Linked DNA regions of Homo sapiens. The protein of the gene in region 2 interacts with the protein of the main gene of each other region in a biochemical or structural test. Each region holds a gene or a part of one and is shown on either strand. Other genes may lie near its edges. The genes, in order: RHPN2, DOCK4, MYO18A, SIPA1L1, MAST3, PPP1R9A and MAST4.

What was found.
Region 1: the proteins of DOCK4 (region 2) and RHPN2 interact in a test that uses a peptide from one of them, tested with the Homo sapiens proteins (one large-scale study listed by IntAct).
Region 3: the proteins of DOCK4 (region 2) and MYO18A interact in a test that uses a peptide from one of them, tested with the Homo sapiens proteins (one large-scale study listed by IntAct).
Region 4: the proteins of DOCK4 (region 2) and SIPA1L1 interact in a test that uses a peptide from one of them, tested with the Homo sapiens proteins (one large-scale study listed by IntAct).
Region 5: the proteins of DOCK4 (region 2) and MAST3 interact in a test that uses a peptide from one of them, tested with the Homo sapiens proteins (one large-scale study listed by IntAct).
Region 6: the proteins of DOCK4 (region 2) and PPP1R9A interact in a test that uses a peptide from one of them, tested with the Homo sapiens proteins (one large-scale study listed by IntAct).
Region 7: the proteins of DOCK4 (region 2) and MAST4 interact in a test that uses a peptide from one of them, tested with the Homo sapiens proteins (one large-scale study listed by IntAct).

Annotation. Positions count from the first base shown.
Region 1 is NC_000019.10:33,009,389-33,012,888, forward strand, and holds part of RHPN2 (rhophilin-2), read right to left. Parts: intron 3,337-3,500; coding exon 3,259-3,336; intron 2,416-3,258; coding exon 2,291-2,415; intron 1-2,290. UniProt on the Homo sapiens protein: Binds specifically to GTP-Rho. May function in a Rho pathway to limit stress fiber formation and/or increase the turnover of F-actin structures in the absence of high levels of RhoA activity.
Region 2 is NC_000007.14:111,870,900-111,874,399, forward strand, and holds part of DOCK4 (dedicator of cytokinesis protein 4), read right to left. Parts: intron 1,666-3,500; coding exon 1,568-1,665; intron 1,454-1,567; coding exon 1,370-1,453; intron 1,192-1,369; coding exon 1,091-1,191; intron 1-1,090. UniProt on the Homo sapiens protein: Functions as a guanine nucleotide exchange factor (GEF) that promotes the exchange of GDP to GTP, converting inactive GDP-bound small GTPases into their active GTP-bound form. Involved in regulation of adherens junction between cells.
Region 3 is NC_000017.11:29,170,399-29,173,898, reverse strand, and holds part of MYO18A (unconventional myosin-XVIIIa), read left to right. Parts: intron 1-3,500.
Region 4 is NC_000014.9:71,736,476-71,739,092, reverse strand, and holds part of SIPA1L1 (signal-induced proliferation-associated 1-like protein 1), read right to left. Parts: intron 2,471-2,617; exon of another isoform or gene 2,324-2,470; intron 853-2,323; coding exon 768-852; intron 76-767; coding exon 1-75.
Region 5 is NC_000019.10:18,142,778-18,146,277, reverse strand, and holds part of MAST3 (microtubule-associated serine/threonine-protein kinase 3), read right to left. Parts: intron 2,618-3,500; exon of another isoform or gene 2,516-2,617; coding exon 2,271-2,515; intron 1,813-2,270; coding exon 1,585-1,812; intron 1,276-1,584; coding exon 1,049-1,275; intron 536-1,048; coding exon 413-535; intron 1-412.
Region 6 is NC_000007.14:95,288,594-95,292,093, forward strand, and holds part of PPP1R9A (neurabin-1), read left to right. Parts: coding exon 1-125; intron 126-1,497; coding exon 1,498-1,710; 3' UTR 1,711-3,500. UniProt on the Homo sapiens protein: Binds to actin filaments (F-actin) and shows cross-linking activity. Binds along the sides of the F-actin. May be involved in neurite formation. Inhibits protein phosphatase 1-alpha activity.
Region 7 is NC_000005.10:67,141,893-67,145,392, reverse strand, and holds part of MAST4 (microtubule-associated serine/threonine-protein kinase 4), read right to left. Parts: intron 3,279-3,500; coding exon 3,156-3,278; intron 2,973-3,155; coding exon 2,860-2,972; intron 725-2,859; coding exon 597-724; intron 250-596; coding exon 14-249; intron 1-13.

The DNA.
Region 1 (3,500 bases), on a different chromosome or scaffold from region 2:
GCAATTACTAACCCCTCATAATTCTTTCTGAAATCTAAAAACTCAGGATTTGTTTTAATTTGTTTTACTTTTTATTTTTTCAGACAAAGTCTCACTCTGTTGCCTAGGCTGGAGTGCGGTGGCATGATCATGACTCACTGCAGCCTCAACCTCCTGGGCTTAAGAGATCCTCCCATCTGAGCCTCCCAAGTAGGTGGGACTACAGGCATGCACCACCCATGACCGGCAAATTTTCTCTAATTGTTTTGTAGAGATAGGGTCTCACTGTGTTGCCTAGACTGGTCTCAAGCTCCTGGGCTCAAGCGATCCACCCACCTTGGCCTCCCAACCTGCTGGGATTACAGATATGAGCCACCACACCCAGCCTAGGACTTGTTTTATTTTTATTTTTTTTATTTTTTATTTTTTGAGACAGAGTTTTGCTCTTTCGCCCAGGCTAGACTGCAGTGGCGCCATCTCAGCTCACTGCAGCCTCCACTTCCCGGATTCAAGTAATTCTCCTGCCTCAACCTCCCAAGTAGCTGGGATTACAGGCACCCACCACCATGCCCAGCTAATTTTTGTATTTTTAGTAGAGACAGGGTTTCGCCGTGTTGGTCAGGATGGTCTTGAACTCCTGACCTCAGGTGATCCACCCACCTCGGCCTCCCAAAATGCTAGGATTACAGGCGTGAGCCACCGCACCTGGCCCTAGGACTTGTTTTAAAGTTTACTCATGAACCAGGGGGTGTGCAGACAGCTTCTCCCTAATTCATGACTAAGGAGAAACCACCTTTCGCCTTTTCGGCCATGCAGACAGCCTGGTGCATTGTTAGGAAAAGTCATCCCCCTTTCCTTTGCTTTCCATGAGGAAGGCATTAGTAGCCACCCATCAGCTGTAGAAACATTGAATTCTGATATGCCCCTGATCTTCTAGGATGTGTTCTCCTTTCACTGACACTCCTAACGACACTCAGAGAAGGGGTGCAGCATCTCCAAAGTACTTTTTTTTAGGTTGTTTTTTTTTTTTTTTGACACAGAGTCTCACTCTGTCACCCAGGCTGGAGTGCAGTGGTGTGATCTTGGCTCATTGCAACCTCTGCCTCCCGGGTTCAGGCGATTCTCCTGTCTCAGCCTCCCAAGTAGCTGCGACTACAAGGCACGCGCAACTATGCCTTGCTAATTTTTGTACTTTTTACTAGAAGCAGGGTTTCACCATATTGGACAGGCTGGTCTCGAACTCCTGACCTCGTGATCTGCCTGCCTTGGCCTCCCAAAGTGCTGGGATTACAGGTGTGAACCACCACGCCCAGCCTTTTTTTTTCTTGTTTGAAAAAGGGTTTCACTCCTATCATCCAGGCTGGAGTACGGTGGTGTGATCTCGGTTCACTGCAACCTCCGCCTCCCGGGCTCAAGTGATTCTCCTGCCTCAGCCTCACAAGTAGCTGGGACTAACAGGTGCATACCATCATACCCAGCAAATTTTTGTATTGTTTGTAGATATGGGGTTTTGCCACATTGTCCAGGCTGGTCTCAAACTCCTGGGCTCAAGTGATCTGCCTGCCTCGGCCTCCCAAAGTGTTGGCATTACAGGTGTGAGCCACTGTACCCGGCCTCCCAAGTATTTAAACTATACTAACCTTTGAAAATACCAATTGGGTCTACGGCCATACCACCCTGACGTGCCTGATCTTGTCTGAAAATACCAATTGTGGAGAAGAATCAAATGCTCTACTTCCTTTTTTTAAATCTGATCTAAGCTGAGTGAGTAGCTCATGCCTATAGTCCCAGCTATTCAGGAGGCTGAAGCAGAAATATCACCTGAGCCTAGGAATTCAAGACTAGCCTGGGCAACACAGTGAGACCCCATTTCAAAAGAAACCTGATCTATTTCTGTTTGGTGCTTTTGCCTCACTGGATAAGACCTGATTTTCTCTCTCTCTCTCACTCACACATACACATGCATGCCCCTGTCCAATCTGAGATAAGAATCTCGCTTCTGGCTAATTCCACTTCAGAGCCCCCGTGCTTCCCCAGTGATACAACGAGCAAGAAAAATGTCTCTTCTCCTTGGCTCGCTTGTTCTGAGAAGCAAGAGGCCACAGTCTGTTGGAGCCATCTCCCCTCGGATCACCTTCATAAATAAATACCAATGTATTGACATCTTTTGAGACTTCCCCAGATAAATGCAAGATAGGAAAGGGGGCTGAGGTGCACAGGGGCACCCGCAGAGGGGCGTCTGTGATGCTGAGGCTCCAAAATTGTGGCTGCCATAACACGTGAAGCGCCAGCGCAGACCTCAAGCACCTACCAGGTGAACAGGAGTCCCATCTGCCGTGTGGGCGGGAAGAATCGACTCTCGACAAAGCCCAGCTGGATGAAGTATGTCATCAGCAGTTCCACCCCGGCCTCATCCCGGCTAGGCGTCCGACAAGCCTGCAAGGAAAAGAACCCAAGAGGGCATGAGCAGAGGAGGACACAGCTGATGGCCCTTCCCAGAAGGTGCCCTGCACATACCAGCAGGTGCCTGTAACTATTTCTGCAGTATGATGACCTCGCTACTGGCATCGTAAACTCTGGGAGGGGTGGAAAGAACCTGGGAGGAAGTCAGAAATCCTGGAATCCAGTCCCAGCCCTGAGGCAGGGCTCTCCCCTTCTATGGTTTTCCTTCTTTTTTTTTTTTTTTTTTTGAGACAGAGTCTTGCTGTCACCCACCCAAGCTGGAGTGCAGTGGTGCGATCTTGGCTCACTGTAACTTCCACCTACCAGGTTCAAGTGATTCTCCTGCCTCAGCCTCCCGAGTAGCTGGGATTACAGGCGTGTAGCACCATGCCTGGCTTGTTTTTGTATTTTTAGTAGAAACAGGGTTTTGCCATGTTGGCCAGTCTGGTCTCAAACTTCTGACCTCAGGTGTTCCACCCGCTTCAGCCTCCCAAAGTGCTGGAATTACCAGCATGCACCACCACGCCCAGCTAATTTTTGTATTTTTAGTAGAGACAGGGTTTCACCATGTTGGCCAGGATGGTCTGGAACTCCTGACCTCAGGTGATCCGCCCACCTCCACACCCCAAAGTGCTGGGATTACACAGGCATGAACCACCGCGCCTGGCCTCCTTCTACAGTTTTCTTATGCAGCAAGTGGAATGGATGATTCCAGCACCCCCCAACCATCACCTCTATCCACCCGCGATTCTGTTAAGACCACAAGCGTGCAATAATGGGGTTCCCTGAAGACTCGGAAAAGCCACCCTCCCCTCTCTGCTGCACACAAAAACTTACTTGTCTCAGATCCATAAGATCTGCAATTTCATCTTCATATAAATAGCCATCTTCACTGTAATGTTCCAGGATAAAATCCTTAAAGAAAAATGAGGTCAGATGTTATAAAGTGTGGCTGAAAACCATATGTGTGCATAATAGTAATATGTCAATTGTGAACCCATTTTTAAAAAGGCAGAATAAAGAAAAACTTATAGTGATTTTCAAAGTGGGGGAATTTATTTTCTTAATTTATGTAGTTT
Region 2 (3,500 bases):
GGCCCAAATTGTTAGGCTGAGTGGGCCGATGTTTCAAAACTATTCCTGCGGTTGCATTTCACTCTCAGCAAAAAATCACACTGATGAAGTGTCAAGTCTAACAAAAATACCTTCATTCATTTCGATGTTGGAGACGTCGATCTTAACCTGTCATGGCTGGGAATATCCAAGTAAACAGGATCAAATGCTTATCTGATAACCTATTAACCTTTATATATTACATAGATGGGGGAAGGATATCAACCTGATTTCATGCTTTTTAAACTCACCTCAGGGAACAGTCAGGCATGTGCATGCCCACAGGTGCTTAAGGTATAAGGTAGAAATATGGGAGAACAGCAAGGACCATATTGGACTGGGAGACAGACGATGGGGTACACTCCAAGGCTATTTAAGCAGTTATTTGTCGAACTAAAAGAGAGAAGCTGTGGCCTCTGGCAATTATCAACTATGTTGAGAGGAGGCAGGCACTAGCCAAAGCATAATATTATTCATAACTTTTCAGCACCACCTGAGCCAGTAGAAAAGGAGGAGCAGTTAAAATAGCAGCTCCTATCAAAGAGTAGATCCCAATGACTAAATTGCCTGAGGCCAGGGACCAGGTCTTCACATCATCAGCATAAAGTACAGTGCCTGGCAAGCAGCTGGCACTCAGTAAATCCTAACATAAATGAATGGATGACTTTCAGCAGGTGTGAAGGAAAAGGTTGTTTTCCATTCATATTTCTTTCTTATGAACATTTATAATCATCAGGGAGTACAGTGATGAAGTGGGACTCTTAACAGCCGAAGTGAGATAACCAGACATTTTAGACCAAAGAATATCCAGTGAAACAGAGACAAGAAGGAAAGACTTTATATTTTAGGGCTCAGGAATAGAATTCAGGAGGTTTTTTTCCCTTTTTAATCAAAATAAGTTCTACCCATTTAAAAAGGGTGTGTTAGCAGGGAAGAGACTATCTCAAGAGACACTTCAGTAGTGCTCCATTTCTTCCTACACTCCCTTTTAAATTTTCCTATATCGCCTCTTCTGCTGAGAAAAGCTTGAAAGGAACCACTTCTAAACTAATTACAAGATACAGGGCCTTACCTGTATGCAAGTGCCCCAGCAAAATGACTCTCAATGTAAGTGTCCATTACAGGTTTAAAATGATGAAATTTGCTATCTTGCAGCAAATTTATTATGTGAACCTAAAAAAAGAAAATTGAGCTTTATAAAACTAAATGCAAATCAAGGTTTTCCTTTTTTTTTTGCTTCTTTTTAAAATGAACTCTTACATTATTAAGCACATGTTTCTGAACCAGCCTCATGAAAGTCAAGATTGAGAGACAAAACAGTTAAAATACAATTAAGGGAATTTGAACTTACCAAAGAATCAAACACTTTAGACCCATATTTTTGGGAATTTTCATCTAAAATTCCAAATAAGGTATCCAGTGTATCCTGCAGAAACTGTTAGATAAAGAAGTAGCAAATGAGTAAATAAGATACTATCTGTCTTTTTCCTCCAAATGTTCTTTATTCTATGAATCTCTGCAAGGAAAATAGTAATGAAATACTATATACCTTTACTATCTCTGAGCCATCAATTTCTTTTAATTTAGAGAGACAGCCAGTGATCTTGTCTGGGTGGGTTCTCCATTTCAAAAGATCAAGCATATCACCTTTCAAAATAGAAAAGGAAGATTAATTGCCTTAATAGAGAACAGGTCCTCACATGAAAGCGTTCTGCTAGTAAAAGTAAAATTCTTAACACATGTGGCTCCCCTCTCCTAGCCACTCAAGTTGCAGGCTCCCACAAACTATGACTAGCCCTCTCTAGGATGGCATTTATTTCACTGTATTCTGTTTCCTCTCCACTGCTCTTGACTTACAAACTCCTACCCATCCTTTAGTCCTCAGATCGGATGTTGCTTCATTTTGGAAGCCTTTCCTGAAATCTCGAGCTAACTGTCCCTTCTACATGCTTCCACATCACAGTAGCACTTACAAATCCTTACAAATCAGGCAGGTGACAAATATTTGTTGATTAATTTTTCTGCCTCCTCCTGGAAAGATGAGAGTTTCTTGAGGGCTGGGAACCTGCTTTATTCCCGTTTGGGTGCCCAGCACATAGCACTCTGCCTAGCAACCAACTCCACCCAGGAACAAAGGTCTTCTTGGCAATGTGACCCAAATCTTGCAGACTAAAAGAATGGTAACAGGCCCAGTGATTTCTTAGATCATCCAGGGAGCTCTCAACCTGAGAAGAGCAGCTCCTGGACTCCACAGGCCATCTTTCATCCCAGAGTCCAGATAAGCACAGGGCCCAGCTCTTTAACCCTTTCCTAAACAGACATGAGGGCTTTGGTCCAGCAGGTCCTTAGAGAACCTCTTCACCTGGGGAGGGAATAAATTTATCTTTCTTGGGCAGAAGTTACAAAGGCTGTGGGAGATGGTCTCCATGCATTATTAGTCTCCAACGCATGCAGGGAGAGGTGGCATCTGGAGGCCAATGAATGCAGTGAGAACTGAAGGCTCGCGTGTGCCGAGCACGCGCAGGGCAGCGGGACCTGGTAGAACTGGCCTCAGGGCTCAGTGGAGTTGCCAGACTAGACTGGCCGAGAGAGGAGCCAGGACAGAATTTCCAGGCAGGGAAGCAGGAAATTTACTTCAAATCACTTGTTTTAGCAGAAACCCAAAAGGGACTTTCTGAGAAACAGAAAGATGATGAGGGAACAAAAACTCCAAACCCCCCAAACCAAGGAAGTAGGTAAGATGAGAAAGAAAAAGAGAATATAGAGAACACCAGTGAGAAAAAGCATTAAGAATCTCAAGGAGAAAGAGAAGCAAGCTCCACCAAAGCCAGATTCAAGAGAAAAACCTCACAAAGGATTTACTATTAATAGTAAGGAATTCAGTACCAAACAGGAATGTTTATCTGCAACAAACACGGGTAAGAGGAGGAGGAGGAATTAGAATGAGAAAAATAAAGTGATTTTAAAAATACTGACTTTGAAAAAGAGATTTATGATGTTTTCATAACCAAAAACCCTGAAAATGTTGACTATTCAGATGTAATTCAGACATCCTGGGGTATGACTGAAACCTTTTAAAACTGATTGGTTATATTTGGCATATCAGATATTTCCACAGAGTGAGACTCAGGGCGACAAAGGCAAAGCTCTATTGTTCTCCCCAGTTTGCTGCTTCCCTCCTACCTACTTCCTACTTCCTGCATCTCACTTCAGGAGGCCTCCCCTCCCTGGCATCTTCTCTTTCATAATCCCTCGTGCATTTCCCCTGCCATTCACTCCTCACTTCCCACTCCACCCCCATCCCAGCTCTCACTCCTCCTTTGTGTTCTCTTTCCCTTCCTTTAAAGTGAGGCAGTTGCAGGGGCCATCAGGACCCTGCTCAATGTGAGGAGTGTGGGGAGGAAGGAGGTGGCTATGCTGGCTACCAAGTGGCAGCAGTGGAGAATGAGGACTAGGGCCCATTTAAGTAGGGCTGGAAAACA
Region 3 (3,500 bases), on a different chromosome or scaffold from region 2:
TCAGGAGGCTAAGACAGGAGGATCACTTGAGCCCAGGAGTTCAAGTCTGTAGTGATCTATGATTGAGCCACCAAACTCCAGCCTGGGTGACAAAGCAAGACCTTGTCTCTTAAAAAAATTTTTTTTTTTCACAGATACCACTGACTTGACCTCTGAAAATACATTAGTTGGTGCAAAAGTAATTGAGGTTTTTGCCATTAAAAAGTAACGGCAGGCCGGGTGCGGTGGCTCACGCCTGTAATCCCAGCACTTTGGGAGCCGAGGCGGGCGGATCACGAGGTCAGGAGATCGAGACCATCCTGGGTAACATGGTGAAACCCCGTCTCTACTAAAAATACAAAAAATTAGCCAGGCGCGGTGGCGGGCGCCTGTAGTACCAGCTACTCGGGAGGCTGAGGCAGGAGAATGGCGTGAACCCGGGAGGCGGAGCTTGCAGTGAGCAGAGATCGTGCCACTGCACTCTGGCCTGGTGAAAGAGCAAGACTGCGTCTCAAAAAAAAAAAAAAGGGCCGGGCGCAGTGGCTCAAGCCTGTAATCCCAGCACTTTGGAAGGCCGAGGCAGGCAGATCACCTGAGGTCAGGAGTTCAAGACCAGCCTGACCAACATGGAGAAACCCCGTCTCTACTAAAAATACAAAATTAGCCGGTCATGGTGGCGCATGCCTGTAATTCCAGCTACTCAGGAGGCTGAGGCAGGAGAATTGCTTGAACCCGGGAGGCGGATTGCAGTGAGCTGAAATCGGGCCATTGCACTCCAGCCTGGGCAACAAGAGCGAAACTCCGTCTCAAAAAAAAAAAAAGTAACGGCAAAAACCATAATTACTTTTGCACCAACCTACCAATTTGTGTTTCCACCAAGACTTATGAGACTCCCTGCATCCCATGCCCTAATTGATTGATATTATCAACCTTGATAGTTTTTACTAAACTGCTAATTGAAAATAGTATACCTCAATTTCACATGTCTGTGAATGTTATGGAGGCTGAATACCTGTTCATGTTTGATGGCCATTTGTATTTCTGCCCCTACAAATTGCCTGTCCATAGTATCCTTGGCACTAGCTACGTGGGCCCTCTGGACTCAAGCCAGTGTGATCCAGCTTGGCCTTGTGCTTATCAAGTTACCTTCACTTCTTTGGGCTTTACTTTCCATGTACAAAGGTTTTGACTTATTTTAGTCATACTTGTGTACTCTGTTATCCTCTCTACTGTGTCATTTAGACTGCAAAAACTGTGCCCTGCTACTATTAGGTACCTCTCTGAGGGTAATTAAATATATTTCATTTAATTCCCCCACCTTAGGTGGTAGGTACCATTATTATCTCCATTTTTATAGATGGGGAAATGGAGGCATGGAGGCCTTAAGTGATTTGCCTGAGATTTCATAGCTATTTACTCATATTTTTTTTCATTTTTATTTAATTTTTTTTTTTTTAGACAGAGTCTTGTTCTGTCGCCCAGGCTGGAGTGCAGTGGCATGATCTCGGCTCACTGCAACCTCTGCCTCCCAGGTTTCAGCGATTCTCCTGCCTCAGCCTCCTGAGTAGCTGGGATTACAGGCGCATGCCACCATGCCCAGCTATTTTTAGTAGAGACAAGGTTTCACCGTGTTGACCAGGCTGGTTTCGAACACCTGATCTCAGGTGATCTGCCCTCCTCGGCCTTCCAAAGTGCTAGGATTACAGGCGTGAGCCATTGCGCCCGGCCCTGTTTACTCAGATTTGTTCACAGGTTTGTTACTTGATATCCAAAGCCTGAGCTCTGACACTGGGCTTACTTATCTTTATGTTGCTTGCCTTTAGGAAGTGGCTGATAGATACATATTTTTTCCCAAAATTTTATCACAATGACCTGCAAACATTCAGAAAAGTTAAAGAATTTTGCAACGAATACCCTCCATTTCCTAGATTCTACAATTAACATTTTCCTATCCTTGCTTTTACACATCTGTATCCCTTGATCCATCCATCAGGCTATGGTTTTTTTTTTTTTTCTTTCTTTCTTTTGAGACAGGGTCTTACTCTGTTACCCAGGCTGGAATGCAATGGCATGATCGTGGCTCAATGTAGCCTCGACCTCCCAGGCTCAGGTGATCTTCCCACTTTAGCCTCCCAAGTAGCTCCCACAGGCATGCACCACCACATCCAGATAATTTTTTGTATTTTGAGTAGAGACAGGGCTTTGCCATGTTGCCCAGGCTTGTCTCCGACTCCTGAGCTCAAGCGATCTGCCCGTCTCGGCCTCCCAAAGTGTTGGGATTATAGATGTGAGCCACCTTGCCCAACCTCATCAAGCTGTCTTAAAATTTTACACATCTCAAAGTAAAACGTAGACATCAGTATATTTCGCCCCAAATACTTTAACATACATATCATTCACTAGAGTTCAATATTTGTTTATAGTTCTTTTCTTTTGAGTGGATATTTACAAACAATGAATGCACAAATCTTTTTTTTTTTGAGATGGGGTCTTGCTCTGTCTCCCAGGCTAGAGTGCAGTGGCGCAATCATCTTGGCTCACTGCAACCTCCGCCTCCCAGGTTCAAGCGATTCTCCTGCCTCAGCCTCCCTAGTAGCTGGGACTACAGGTGTGTGCTGCCACGCCCGGCTAATTTTTTTTATTTTTATTAGAGACGGGGTTTCAGGATGGTCTCGATCTCTTGGCCTCATGATCCACCTGCCTTGGCCTCCCAAAGTGCTGGTATTACAGGCGTGAGCCAACGCGCCTGGCTGAACGCACAAATCTTATGTGCACCATTTGATAACTTGACAAGTGCATATACTTATCAACCCAAACCGCTATCAATATACAGGACATGAATATCACCCCAAAAAGTTCCCTCATGCGATCCCACTCCTACCCCCACCATAGGTTAGTTTTGCCTGCACTAGAACTTCATATAAAGAGAATCATACCCATATGTGCTCTTTGTCAAAGACTTCTTTCCCTCTCACTTGACATCATGATTTTGAAGTCCATCCCCATTGTGTGTATCTTTAGTTGTTTCTTTTTTCTTGCTGAGTAGTATTCCATTGCATGAATATGAGCATTGTTTATGCACTCTGATGGACAGATAGATGTATATTTGAGGTTGATGGTCATTGCCTTCGGGATGCTTACTCTCTTAAAGTGATAGAGCAGCTGAGTTGACAGATTGTACTTTCTTTTTGTTTTTGGGGATAGTAAGAGCAAGATTATTCGGGTCCATACCCTAACTTACATAGATGCCTTCCTTTTCTTAAAATTAGGAAAAACTTCTTAGAGTATGATGAGGAGAGAAACGCAGAAAAGGAGGTCAGGAAAATTATAAGGTTACCTTTACTGGAGTGGAGGGAGAGGGTAGGAGAGGAATGGGAGGCAGATGGAAACTGCAGCCCGGGATAGGGGGTAGGAAGGTAGTGGTATCAGAGCTGTTGGAGACTTTGGACCTGAGGCCAGGAGGTGCCGGAAAGTGCAAGGTCTACAAGAAGGCCATGGAGCAGCAGTCGCATTGCAGATCT
Region 4 (2,617 bases), on a different chromosome or scaffold from region 2:
CTCCTCCTGTAGCCTCAGGTTGTCCTCTCGCAGGTGCTGCACCTCCGCCTGAAGGTGAGCTTTGTCTTCTTTTTCCTGGGAGGCAGAGTGAAGTAGAAAAGCTAAGAGGTGTTGGCCCCACCTTGCCCAGCTCTTCTGAGTAATAGCTATGGACCCGTTTTGATCTTTTGTCCATTTCTATTCTTCGTTCCTCCAAACACCTGTCTAAACGGACTGGTATCAGGTGCTAAGACACTCTAAGCTCAGGGAGCAGGGCTTCTAGAGAGATTCAACCCTGCAGGATTAGCTCTAAGTAATCCTGGAATGTAAGTACATTAATGTGTATTTTAACATCCTTGTTAGTCAGGATTGTCTTAAATTTTAGACAATTGTGTTGGTGGCTGATGTCTTGATATATAGTCAAGGCCACCCAAAAAACAAAACATTCAGTTCTTTTGGTGCAAAAGCCCCAATAACACCGACTACATGGGGGTCTGGGCTACTGACACATTACACAAGGAGTGGGGAGGCCGGGAGAGGACCCAGATGGTGCTGGCTGAGGTTCACAGCCTTTCACAAATTATTGAACAGTTTTTCTGTACACCGGACACCGAACGCCTCCTCATGCTGTGTGTTCCAGTGGCAACTGAAATCCCTGCATCCCCAAACACATGCAGGCACCGGGAAGACACCCACGTCTTATTTTACCATGCTACTTAGAAAGGGCTCTCATGGTTCAAGGGTAGTTTGTACAGACTGGACAATTTGCTTTGAGAATACATGTTTACCTTCTTCAAATCTTCCCGAAGCATCTTCAGCATACCTTCCAGCTGGTCCACTTTAGAAGCCAGAGTGGGAGAGGAGTCTTTACTGCTGGGAACAAGAAACAAAAGACCATGTTGGCAGGGGCCTCCATGGCTGGGTTTGTTTTTTTTTTTTTTTTTTTTTTTTTACTCTGAGGAGGCTGTATTTATAAAATGGTTTTCAATGTCAAATTACTCAGTATGGCGACCCAATGAGTATTTTTACTTTAAAAAAGAAAATGGTAGTCTTAAAAAAAGGTAATAAAAGCTTGAACTGCAGCCAATCAATAGCTTCCTTTGTTAAAGATGCTGCATCCTCACGACTAAAGAATGAAGCACAATAGTGAAAATGGTCTCTTTGGCAGCACAAGAGGTACTTTCTGGCAGATATAATTGTCAAACAGTAAAATGATTCCCAGGGAGGCTCTGGGATCTCTCTAGTGGGCTTTGACAGAGGAGTTACTCCCCTGTGTGTGGGAAGGAAGCTGGGGAGCTGATGTGATAGGCAGGTCGTCTCTGGTCCCAAGTGTGTGGTCTTAGCTACTCATGCAATTGCAGCTAAGGTATCATGCCTACATCTTAAACCACTGGTCTAAGTATCTTGTTAGCCTAGGCTTAATGTCTTAAATTCTGTCCCAGTCTGATCAAAAAACCATTTTCTTCTCATTTTCTCATGTTTTCTTTTGTTTATGGCACGCTAATCATGCCGTGCTAGTGGAGTACCGAAAGAAGTGTGAGCTGGGGTACGGCAGGCCAGCCAGCGAGCTAGACAGACGGCATGGCTGGGCACGCTCTCACCCCGAGGGTCCTATGGCTGAGGAACTGACAACTTTTCTTGCCACACTCTCCTCTACCTGAGTTCAAGCTGCCAAATTTTCCTGATTCCTAGCCAAGCTATACATCCTCAGGGGCACACCACAGAGAACCCAAAGTCTTCCATCGGGAAAACATGCAGAGCCTCTTCCCAGCGCCAATGGGAAAGAGCTAAGTGACTCCGAATTTTCTAGGTCACGGAGTAAAAGGTATTCTTTACTTTAAAAATAAAGATTCAAGTTACAATTCCTGACCTCAGATGAACTGTGTTGATGTCTTCTGCTAATCCTAAGTCTACAAGAGGCCCCAGGAGGCAAAACCCACCGTGGTGTACAGTGTGGCAAGGCTGTGGGCTGATGGAGTGACCATGACCTCCAATCTCTAAGGCAGGAAGGCCAATGAAAAGCTGACAATGAATGGGTTTGAGAAGGGACATGGTCAGCTGCAGTCCATAACCGCATAGTATGGTACGGCAGGCTGGTCCGATTTTGGGTGGGCTGAAGGCCACGGATGTGGTAGAAAAGGGGCGGTGCTGGACAGACACAACGAGGCTGGGGCCGGGCAGCAGTGGTATCCTTCGCAAAGCCACTGCAGCTCATCAGGACTGCAGCAACGCTCAGGAGCATTCTGTCTATTCACCTCCATTTCCATTTGTTCAGTCCATGCTGACCCAAGAAAAGAGCCTGTCATCACCCTCATCTGCTGATTTTTTAATAATCCTTTCACAGGAAAACAGTCTTGGCTCACTCACACTTCTCTCTGTTGGAGGCTCCTTCCTAACGAGGCACATTTGGGGCTTGCTTCTGGGATATGCATTTTTAAAGTTCTCAGCAGTCAGCCTGATTGCTGCTCTCCTCACCCCAGCAGTGCCAGAGGTAAGTGCGGCCTCTCTCCTATACTCATAACAAATGATCCCCTATTCTTGTGCCTTCTCGTTGAGAGCACTTCCTTGCAGACTTGTTCAGAGAAGTCCTCAATGGCAAGCCCCAGTTTATCTGTGCCATTTACTTCAATTGGCTTTC
Region 5 (3,500 bases), on a different chromosome or scaffold from region 2:
TGCAGAGATGGGGGTCTCGCTCTGTTGCCCAGGCTGGTCTCAAAGTCCTGAGCTCAGGTGATCATCCTGCCTCGGCCTCCCAAAGTGCTGGGATTACAGGCGTGTGCCACCGCGCCCGGCCCTTCCTCCTGTCTTGAGCCCATCTCCTACCTCCAGGCCTCAGGCCAGAGGGAGGAACAGATGTGAGGGTGCCCAGGGAGAAGGGAGGGCTTCCTGGAGGAGCAGCTCTAAGGGGTGATGTTGGGGGCTGAAGAAGGACATGTATTCTGGGCCGAAGGAAGTGGATGTGCCAGGCCTGGAGTTGACATTGAATGTGGGGTTGTGTGTCTGGACGCGGAGAACCACGGGGAACCGGGAGCTGCGGCCAAGGGGTGCTGGGGAGCCCTGAGGGTGGGCAGTGGGGGTGCCGCACCTTCAGCAGCAGCTCCACGACGTCCATGTGCACCAGCCCCAGCACTGACTCCCCGTTGATGTGGGTGATGAGGTCCCCAGCCCGCAGGCCCGCCTCCTGGGCGGGGCTTCCGTCCTCCACACTCTGGGGGCAGACGAGAACGGTGGGGTCAATGGCCTGGGCCCCACATCTGGGGACCCCAGCCCAGGCTGGGTCTGCTGTGGGACCCCAGCAAGCTGCTGCCTCTTGTGCTGTCTCAGTTTCCCTGATCCTGGGGGAACTCCTACTCACCCATCAAAGCCCCAGCTCCTACGCCCCCTTCTCCAGAAAGCCTTCTGTGTCTGTTCAGGGAGCAACCAATAGGGAGGGCATGCCTCGACGCCCTTGGGCTGGGAGAGGGAGGATAACATGCCCAGTGCGTCCCCATATGGAGCTGGGAGGTTAATGCCACTTGGGATCTGTGAGCTTCCATCCATCCATCCTTGTCTCTCTCATCTGACCTCCTCCCTGCCAAATGACAGGGACCGAGATGAACTCGGTGGCACCAGCTCTATCTACCTAACCCTGCCAGGCTCCAAAATGCAGCTCTGAGAAGGGACATGACCGGGCAGAGTCAAACTAGAACCCGGGTCCCTGCCATTCCCACTCGGCACTCACCCAGACGACGTGGTGCACAGTGTAGACGTCGCTATCACCCATGTAGACGCGGATCGCCCGCAGGCTGAAGCCGTACTTCTTGCCAGAGCTGTGGATAACGATGGGGGGCCGCAGGCTGCCACACACGGGGGACGGGTCTCGGCTCGGCGAAGAGTCACGGGACGACGGGTTCGAGGACAGAGAGCGCGGGGAAAGGGGGCTCATGAGGGGGCCGCCGCTGCCATCATCTGCAGGGGGTTAGGGAGGGGGTCACTCACTCCCTCACAGGTCTCCCCTGGGGCCCCCTCTTTCCCACCACAACGACCACCCTGGCCACTTTGCTGTTGCTTCAATGTCCCAAGCATGGTCACCCCACCAGGCCTTTGCACGTGCAGTGCCCTCTACTGGGAACACCATCTCCCCAGCTCTCCATGTGTCCTACTCCTCCTCCCCTCTTCTGGGGCTCATCCCCAGCCTCCCCAACTCAGGAAGGGCCCCCACCCTGTTGGTGAAAATGGGTGCAGACAGACAAAGGTGAGAGGGGCCTTGGGCATTACCTGCCGTGATGATGAGGGACAGGGCAGAGACAGAGGCTGACTTGGGCACGCGGCCCCCACTGCCGCCACCACTGCCACCGCTGGAGGAGGCTCTGGACTTCTCAGGGGCTGGGTCTCTTGGGCCCCCAAGGCGGCGGCCCCGGCCGGCATCCAGAGGCCTTGGTGTGGAGTGTCGGGCGCCGATGCTATTGCTCCGTAGGCGGGCGTGGCTGAGAGCAGCTGTGTCGGCTAGAGGGTCAGCAGGGTCAGCTGGGTGCCCCTCAAACTCACCATGTGGTCCTAAAGGGACCTTAAGGCCCTTCCTCCCTGGTCACTATTTACACAGTCCAGCCTCCTGGCCTTTGCTCATGCAGTTCCCTCTTCCTGCACTCCCTTCCCAAATTATTCTCTATGCAAAAGTCTTCAAGTCCCCTCCTCCAGGAAGCCTTCCTCCACACCCATTTAGACCCTTAGTTCCCCCATCTTGGGAGCTAGGGGTCCCATCCTGACTCTATGAAGCTGGGGGCATTTACCCTAGACTGGGGTTCCTTGGGGGCTGGGGGTCTCTCTGGGACCCTGGCTTCTCCTCTCTTAAAGCCTTTGTTGGCTCTGGAGAACTCCTACTCATCCTTGAAAACCCATCTCAAATAGCCCCTCCTCTGGGAAACTTCCATGACATCATCCCTCTTACTCAGGGCCCCACTTACCAGAAAGGCTCGAGGGCTTGGGCATCACTGGGGTGGCCGCTGGTGGGGGGTCAGGCTCCCCTAGAATGAAGACGGGCCTCTTGGGGCCTGCAGGGCCTGGGCCTACCCCCTCATCCTCTGATGAGAAGGCAAACTTGGGCATTGTGTCCAGGCTGATGGTATTCAGGAGAGATGGGCTGGGACCCCGCTCGGGCTGGGACGAAGATGACTGACAGGAGGATCCAGAGGATGTCCAGGACCTCAGCCTGCAGGGAGGAAGAGCCTGCATCACCCCTGCCAGGCACCTGCACCCCAGGATACTCAGCCACCTTCATGGCCACATCTTAACTCTCAGTCTGCAGTCAAGGGTAATTTGCATAGACAGGACGAGTTCCTTCTGTCTGCACTGTCCTCTCTGTCCACCTGGAGACCGCTTATTCACCTTTTTTTTTAAAGACAGGGTCTCACTCTGTCACCCAGGCTGAAGTGCAGTGGTGCAATCTCAGCTCACTACAACCACTGCCTCCAGGGCTCAAGTGAGTCTCCTGCCTCAGCCTCCCAAGTAGCTGGGATTATGGGTGCCTGCCGCCACACTGGGCTAATTTTTGTATTTTTAGTAGAGACGGGGTTACACCATGTTGGCCAGACTGGTCTTGAATTCCTGAGCTCAAGTGACCTGCCTGCCTTGGGGTCCCAAAGTGCTGGGATTACAGGCGTGAGCCACTGCACCCGGCTTCCTATTCAACTTTTAAAACCCAGCTTCCAGGCTGGGTGCAGTGGCTGACACCTATAATTCCAGCACTTTGGGAGGCTGAGACAGGAGGATTGTTTGAGGCCAGGAGTTCGAGACCAGGGCGGGCAACATAAGGAGACCCCATCTCTGCAATTTTTTGTTTTTTGTTTTGTTTTTTTTTTTTGAGACAGAGTCTCGCTCTGTCACCCCGGCCGGAGTGCAGTGGCACGATCTTGGCTCACTGTAACCTCCGCCTCCCAGGGTCAAGCAATTCTCGTGCCTAAGCCTCCCAAGTAGCTGGGATTACAGGCGTGCACCACTATGCCCGGCTAAATTTTTGGAGTTTTAGTAGAGATGGGGTTTTGCCATGTTGACCAGGCTGGTCTTGAACTCCTGACCTCAGGTAATCCACCTGCCTCGGCTTCCCAAAGTGTTGGGATTACAGGTGTAAGTCACTGCACCTGGCCTACAAAAAATTGCTTAAAAAATTAGCCGGGTGCCGTGGTGCACGCCTGTAG
Region 6 (3,500 bases), about 17 Mb from region 2:
AATGGAGTGTGCAGCAGGTTTCTCACTGGTTAATGAGCCTAAATCTGGAGCAGTATGTATCTGAATTCAGTGCCCAAAACATCACTGGAGAACAGCTCCTGCAGTTGGATGGAAATAAACTTAAGGTAAAGAATTATATGTCTGTCTTAGGTTACCAGGTATAATTTGTATTACTCATATCACCTAAAATGTTTTCATTAGGTAAGAGCATTCTGCATATCTGAGAGGTAATTCTCATCAATATTCAGCAGAAAGGATGTTGAATTCTTTCTGAGTAGTAAATGAAGTCTCAGAAAGTCCATCAGGGGTTCCAAATCAAATGGTAGGCTGCTGATTAGGAGAGTGAGGGACCCACTCCATTGCTTCCACCTGGCAACACATGGTCCATATATTAACTCTCCTTACATCTGATGTAGTATGAGTTTTAATAATGGCCACTGTGGACTTTTTCATCACATTAGAATTAAGACCCAGATCCACGAGTCTTCTTTTCCTTGTTCATTTCTCCTTCACCTCCACTCTTCCTTACACACCACTCCCAAACTGGGATGATGTTCTCCCCAGAAGTTTTTTCCCCAAATATGTACACACATCTTCCCTCCCCTCCATGGCACTTTCATTTCCACTTGTCCAGTCCATCTCTCTTAGAGACCAAGGTGGCATCCATCCCTTTGGGAAAGGGAAAAAGGTGCTTACAGCCAACTCCATGTACCCCCAAGCCCCACCCCCGCCTCAGCCCCCTGCTGGGCTGACGGGCAGACGAGTATCTCTTGACAATCTTGAAAAGGTTAGAGATCAATCAATAGCTTGTGAATATGAAGGCCTCATTGACAAGGCTGTCCCTGTTGGGGAGATAGATAGATGCATCCTGCTGTTGATTCTGAAGGTCACGAAACATTTAAAGTACATAAGCAACTCCCCTTATTCTGAATTCTAAGTTCATCGAGCAACCTCCTCATTATAATCAACTTCCTTTATAGGTCTGCCTACAGGGAAAGAATGGCTAGTCATGCTGACACGAGCATTCTGGCCCCAAAGACATTTTTGGTTCTCATTGTAATGAAAACATTGGCAGAAAGGAAGCCATTTCAATTCTTCTTGCCCTTCTTGGAGCCCTCTGTGACAGCAGGTGCTCACTCCTATGCTTTGAAAATATTGATGAGTTTAGCAATACCTTTACCCGTAAATGCCTACAGCCCAAAGGTTGGAGAAGTAGAATTGTGCCCTTTTTCCATTCATTCACCCATTAATTACTCATTTGGAAAGCATTTAATTAATGAGCTTTAGGGTATACTTTGCAAGGGACTTCAAAGAACAAAAGAAAAAATAAAGGGTAGCCCCCAGTGTGTTGGTTTTTAGCAAATGTAACTAGTTCTTCCTCTGTTCTTACCTCTTCAATGTTTGAATTAGTTTACGAACTTGGATATATGGTATGTTAACACCATCAGAGGGCTCATTGGTTTTCAAATTCAGTTTGTGTGTGTGTTTCTTTCTTAGGCTCTTGGAATGACAGCATCCCAGGACCGAGCAGTGGTCAAAAAGAAACTCAAGGAAATGAAGATGTCTCTAGAGAAGGCTCGGAAGGCCCAAGAGAAAATGGAAAAACAAAGAGAAAAGCTAAGGAGAAAGGAGCAAGAGCAAATGCAGAGGAAGTCCAAAAAGACAGAAAAGATGACGTCAACTACAGCCGAGGGTGCTGGTGAGCAGTAACACATACCCTCTTACAGATGATGGAGATGCTCCAAGAGAAGTCCCCACCTCTTCCTGCCCTGCTCTCCTCCAGAGGATGAAAAAGAAACTAAATGATAAGGGTAATGCGGCTCTAGGCCGGCTGAGGAACTGTGTGTTGAATAACTGCATTTTCTGCAATAGAATGCACTCTTAATTTTAACTACTAAAATAATCCCAAGCCACCTTTGGTTCATTAACAAACCAGAGATTTCATTTAAGTAGCTGTGTTTTGCTCTTCTCTAACTTACCAACATCTTGTGTTGTGTTGGGTGTGTTTTGTCACTTGGAGAACTAGTGTGACCCCACCCAAGAGCATGACACACCCTGGTGTTGTTAATGGAGCGCCGTGAATTTTCAGTGTGGGATCCTGAAATGGCAATTGCACATGTCTGCATGGCAGAGAGCACCCTGCCATGAGATCTGAGACCAGTACTTAACTTCTAGGACTGCAACACCTACTCCAATGTGTGGGAAAGATTTGCTCTTAATTCTCAGTCTGGACAGTGAGACCACCCCGCTGTGGAAACATGGGTGCTCTGCTCTGTAGTTACCTACTAAGGGAAAAGGCAAGCAAGTCATTCTGCTTGCTAGGCATCAAAAAGAAAGAAAATAAATTATAGCTATTTGTTAACCACTGAAAAAAGCAAAAGCCTTAAGAATGTGGATGTGGGTATTACCTTGGGGTTCTGAGGGTAATATTTATCCTCTAGATACGGCTGAACAAGAAAGAAAAAAATCAGACATTAATGCAGCCATGGGATATTGGGATCTGTTGACCTTGCTACTGCTGTGTGTTCAGCATTTCAGCAACACTGGCAAACACAACACAGTTCCTCTTCCCCCTACCTAACCCAAGAAATTGAACAGGAAATTGATTTTTAAGGAAACCACCATTTTCAGGTTTCCTCTCCTGGGGAACATTCTGGCTGGTCTTCAGCCTGCCTATGTCACAATCAGGAACTCATCACATATTTTCTACTCAAGATTTCCCAGGTGGGCTCAGTTAGTATTTTAACAAATGTACTTTTAAGAAAAATAGAAATACCAGTTAGAGGAAACTGTCAGTTAACATTTTAGAGAGATTTTGAATGGTTTTTCCGAACCATTCCTTTCCATACTTCAAAGATTCTCAATTTTACAGAAAAAGTTTGTTTAAGGCAGTGCATAGGTATACTTTAGTAGTGGAGGAACTTATACTAATTTTAAGCCAGCATTAAGGATTTCCATGTTTCACCAAACTAAGTCAAGTGCAGGAGACTGGGGCAGAAGAAGGAGAAAATAAACTCGTTTTGAGAAATTTCATGTGATGAGGGTTTTTTGTTTTTTATGCTCATGTATCTGGTTCTCTTTGCTGCGTTGACTCTAAAAATGAGGTTATCCACTTTCCAAAGGACAAGTTTCAGAATAAGACTTGAGGCCACATGAATTCTTGGACAGTATTTTACTTCTTTTACTTTATGGGAATCTCTGCTCTGTTCCCAGCATCTCGTATCTTCCACTAGAAGTATTCCATATTTAGAGCCTCGGCAAGGCTTTTGAGTGTAACAGATTAAGGGAACTCCCTTGTAGCCCCATCTTGTATTTTAATAACAGTGTGATTTTTTTTTATCTGAAAATCTGAATTCAGAAATTATCTAAACTGGACATTTTTAATTCTGTTTTACCCCCAAGGCCTGTTTTCTTTTCATTGCCAGAGTATTGTCGGTTATGCGTCAGCTCTTTTGTCATTAGGTACAGACCCTTCATTCAATCCTCAGAAACGTTGACAT
Region 7 (3,500 bases), on a different chromosome or scaffold from region 2:
GCCCGGGGCTTACCTGACAGGGTGGAGCTGCTGATGGTGCTGGCTGGGGTGGTGACCTCAGGCTCCTCCTGGGCACACTCTTCAGGAGGAAGGGCTGGCTTTCCTGGCTCCTCATGGGGGTCTCCAGGGCAGGAGGCAGCTTCATCTTGCTCTCCCTCTGTTGAAATAGCCAGTTTGGGAAGTAGGCCAGAACTGAGTTTATGTCTGTTGCTTTCAGTATCTGAAGAGTTGGATGTTGATAGCTGTTGCCTTAATTAAAAGCAAAAACAAAGTCATATATACATACTAGAAAACTGTGTTAAAGGTGAATTTTGGAAGAAACCAGGTGAAAATCGGACTTGGATAAGCCTAACCAAGAGATGTCTAGTGCAATGGTTCTTAATGTGTGGTACCCACAGCAGCAACATCTGCATAATCTAGATACTTGTCAGAAATGCACATTTTCAGGCCCTACCCTAGATCTACTGGATGAGAAACTCTGGAAGTGGGAGATCTGTGTTTTAACAAGCCCCCCAGGTATTCTGATGCTCACTAAAGTTTAAGAAACTCTGCTCTAGTAGCTACTGCTTATATTACTTAAGAGGCATTTCACATACATTTCAGAATATTCTGAACTCCAGCTCAGTGTTTCTGTGGATGGCAAGGTGGTGCTTTTGGTTTTGTCCACAGAGTCTTCCTTCTCTTCTGCTGAATTCTGAGTGATTCGATCTATACTGCTGAAAACCTGGAAGGCAAATAATTGGTGCTTATTAATATCTACTAAAAAGAGTTTGTCAGAAAAACACTCCAAGTCTTGGGAGAAAAACCTGAGAGGATAACTAAATTCTGAACTAATATTGTGTATTCAGAAAGTACTTTCCAGTGTTGTTAACCAGAATCCAGAGAGGAAGGGTCAGGGTGAGTGAGTGTGTGTGTGTGTGTGTGTGTGTGTGTGTACATATATACGAATAGGGAGCTATGAATTCATCATCCTCTCATCATATCTTGTTGCGGACTTTGTATCTGCAAACAAAATCCACAGATGCAGTGGAGTTTCTAGGCCTTGGGATCAATGCACATCTTGATTACTTTTTAACCATGAAGTCAACTGGAAAAAGAAAATAACAGAGAAACAGATTTAATGGCCACCAGTCAGGGGTGGGAAGAAGAAAAATGAATTGGAATTGAGTGCAAACAGAAGAATAAATTATCTGTTTCAAGACTGGGTGGTGGTGTGGCAAGGATGCAGTACATATTCCGTTATAAGAGCCAGAGGTATTTGTTTCGCTTACAAATCACATCTATAGACAGGCAGTTTCCTATGTTGGTGCCGGGGTTCCTGAAGGGGATCGGAGCTCAGGTAAGCCCAAGGTCTCAGCTATCTGTGAATCTCTGTTGTCTCATAAGAGAGAAGGTAAAATGGGGGTCTAAGAGCCTAGGGCAGGAAGCGCTCCCTACTGCCCTGCTCAGACACTTGCTGCTCTCATGGGAATGGTCCTCAGGCCTCCTATAATCTACTAGGAATAGCAGGAAAGTGGCTACAGAAAAGGAGATGGTGGGAAAATGAAATACCCACCAAGGCAAAGAAGGAAGCAGTGTTTAGGGGTTGGCATTGTTGTCTTTGATGGCCCAGAGAACAGTCCTGGTCTGAGTCCACACTTAGCAAAGCTTCTGTCCTGGCTCTAGGACAGACTGGCTACCACCTTCTCCAGGGAAATCCTTACCTCGATGCCATTCCCATACACAGGAGGGTAGTGCTGGCCAATTTGCAGGTGCATCTAGGTAATCATTTAGAAAAAGCTACGGAGCACTTTAAAATCACTAAATGTTATAGAAAAGCTAAACAATAATCATGCAAAATGCCATGGCAACAGAAAATATATAGCTACTGAAAATAGCAAAAGGGAGGTAGGGTGCCCTCAGGTTGATTTCCGTTTTTCCTAGGGCCTTGTTCTGTCTCAGTACTATCAGTTTTCTTTGTTTTGATTAATTGTTTTTTTTAACTTTTACTGTACTGGTAAAAAGGCATCTTTCTCAAGCATCAATTATCTAAATGATTCTAGCTTGGCTTCCTACTGCCTTTTCAATATGGCTTATAATTTCTGTTTATTGGTTACAAGACTTTTTTTTTTTTTTGGCTTTTTTTTTCCTTTTTGTGGAGAACGGGGTCTCACTATATTGCCCGGGCTGGTCTTGAACTGCTGGGCTTACGCTATCTTCTTGCCTCTGCCTCTCTAAGTGCTGAGATTAGAGGCGTGAGCCACTATGCCTGGCAGTTATGAGACTTTACAATCCTACAGTCAACTGTCCGCAGGTATCTTTGCTTATGTCAAGGACTGAGCCTTCTCCTTTTGTTGTACTCTGTGTAATCCCTCGGAGATGACTCTGTACACAGTGAAGCTCGCGCTCTTCATCCTGAGTTGAAAGCAATGAGTGATACCTCTGCAGCCTGGCATTGAGCCAGGTGAGAGACGTTCAAGGCAAGGTCATCATATAAGTAGCAGTCACACACTCCAAAAACAAGACTGTGGGTGCAAGGCTATGCCTCTAAGAAAACAATATCTTAATTTGTGGAGAGAGAAATATATTGGTGCCGGGGTTCCTGAAGGGGATCAGAGCTCAGGTAAGCCCAAGGTCTCAGCTATCTGAATCTCTGTTGTCTCACAGGAAAGAGAGAAGGTAAAATGGCAGTCTAAAGGCCTAGGGGATAGGGACAGACTATAAGTTGAGGAGGTCACTTTTCTTCAACAAAAGGAAGTTTAAGCATAGGAGACCTCAAACCCTGGAAAACGGTAAGTGTCCAGCTGTTCGGGGATACTATCTGGCCAGCGGGAGATCCTCCCAGAGAGACTCTGTATGTTTATGCCACATTTCACTTACTTTTGAAAACCTGTGTGAACATGAAGAAAACTGCCTTATTTCCACATTAAAGTCTTCATCATTTGTGTCATCTTCTTCCTCCGTTTCCATATGATGATACTTCTCAGACCGAGCTGCAGTGAAATGTTTGGGAACAGGTCCAATTACTCAGATTTTCAACATTTAGATATTTTAATTATGATTTTCTGGATCAACATTATGTTTAAGAACTCAGAGATATGAAAAGGTTCAAAAGCAAAGATAATTATTTATCGAGTAAAGGCCAAACAATGTTTTATGTCAGATAAAGCACATACTATCAAAATAACTTGTGTCATCCTCAGATTCCAGTTGGGGAATAAATTCTGCCTTCTGTCTCAGCAAACTGTTCCAGTCTAAAGAACGGAAGAATCGATGCTGTTTGACTTCATATGCACCACCTGGAAGGGGGCAGGTAGAGACAGAGAGGAAAGTGTTAAACTATCCCCACTAAGCAAAGGCAAACATCAGTTTTTAACAACAATTTTGAGAACATATCAGCAAAGAAATACAGACATGAAAATCATACTTTTTCATTCTACAACCAAAGCCCCACAAGTTTTTCTGATAATTTATCAGTAGGAGATTTGATGTTGCTAACAGCAGTTGCTATGGCACTGTTT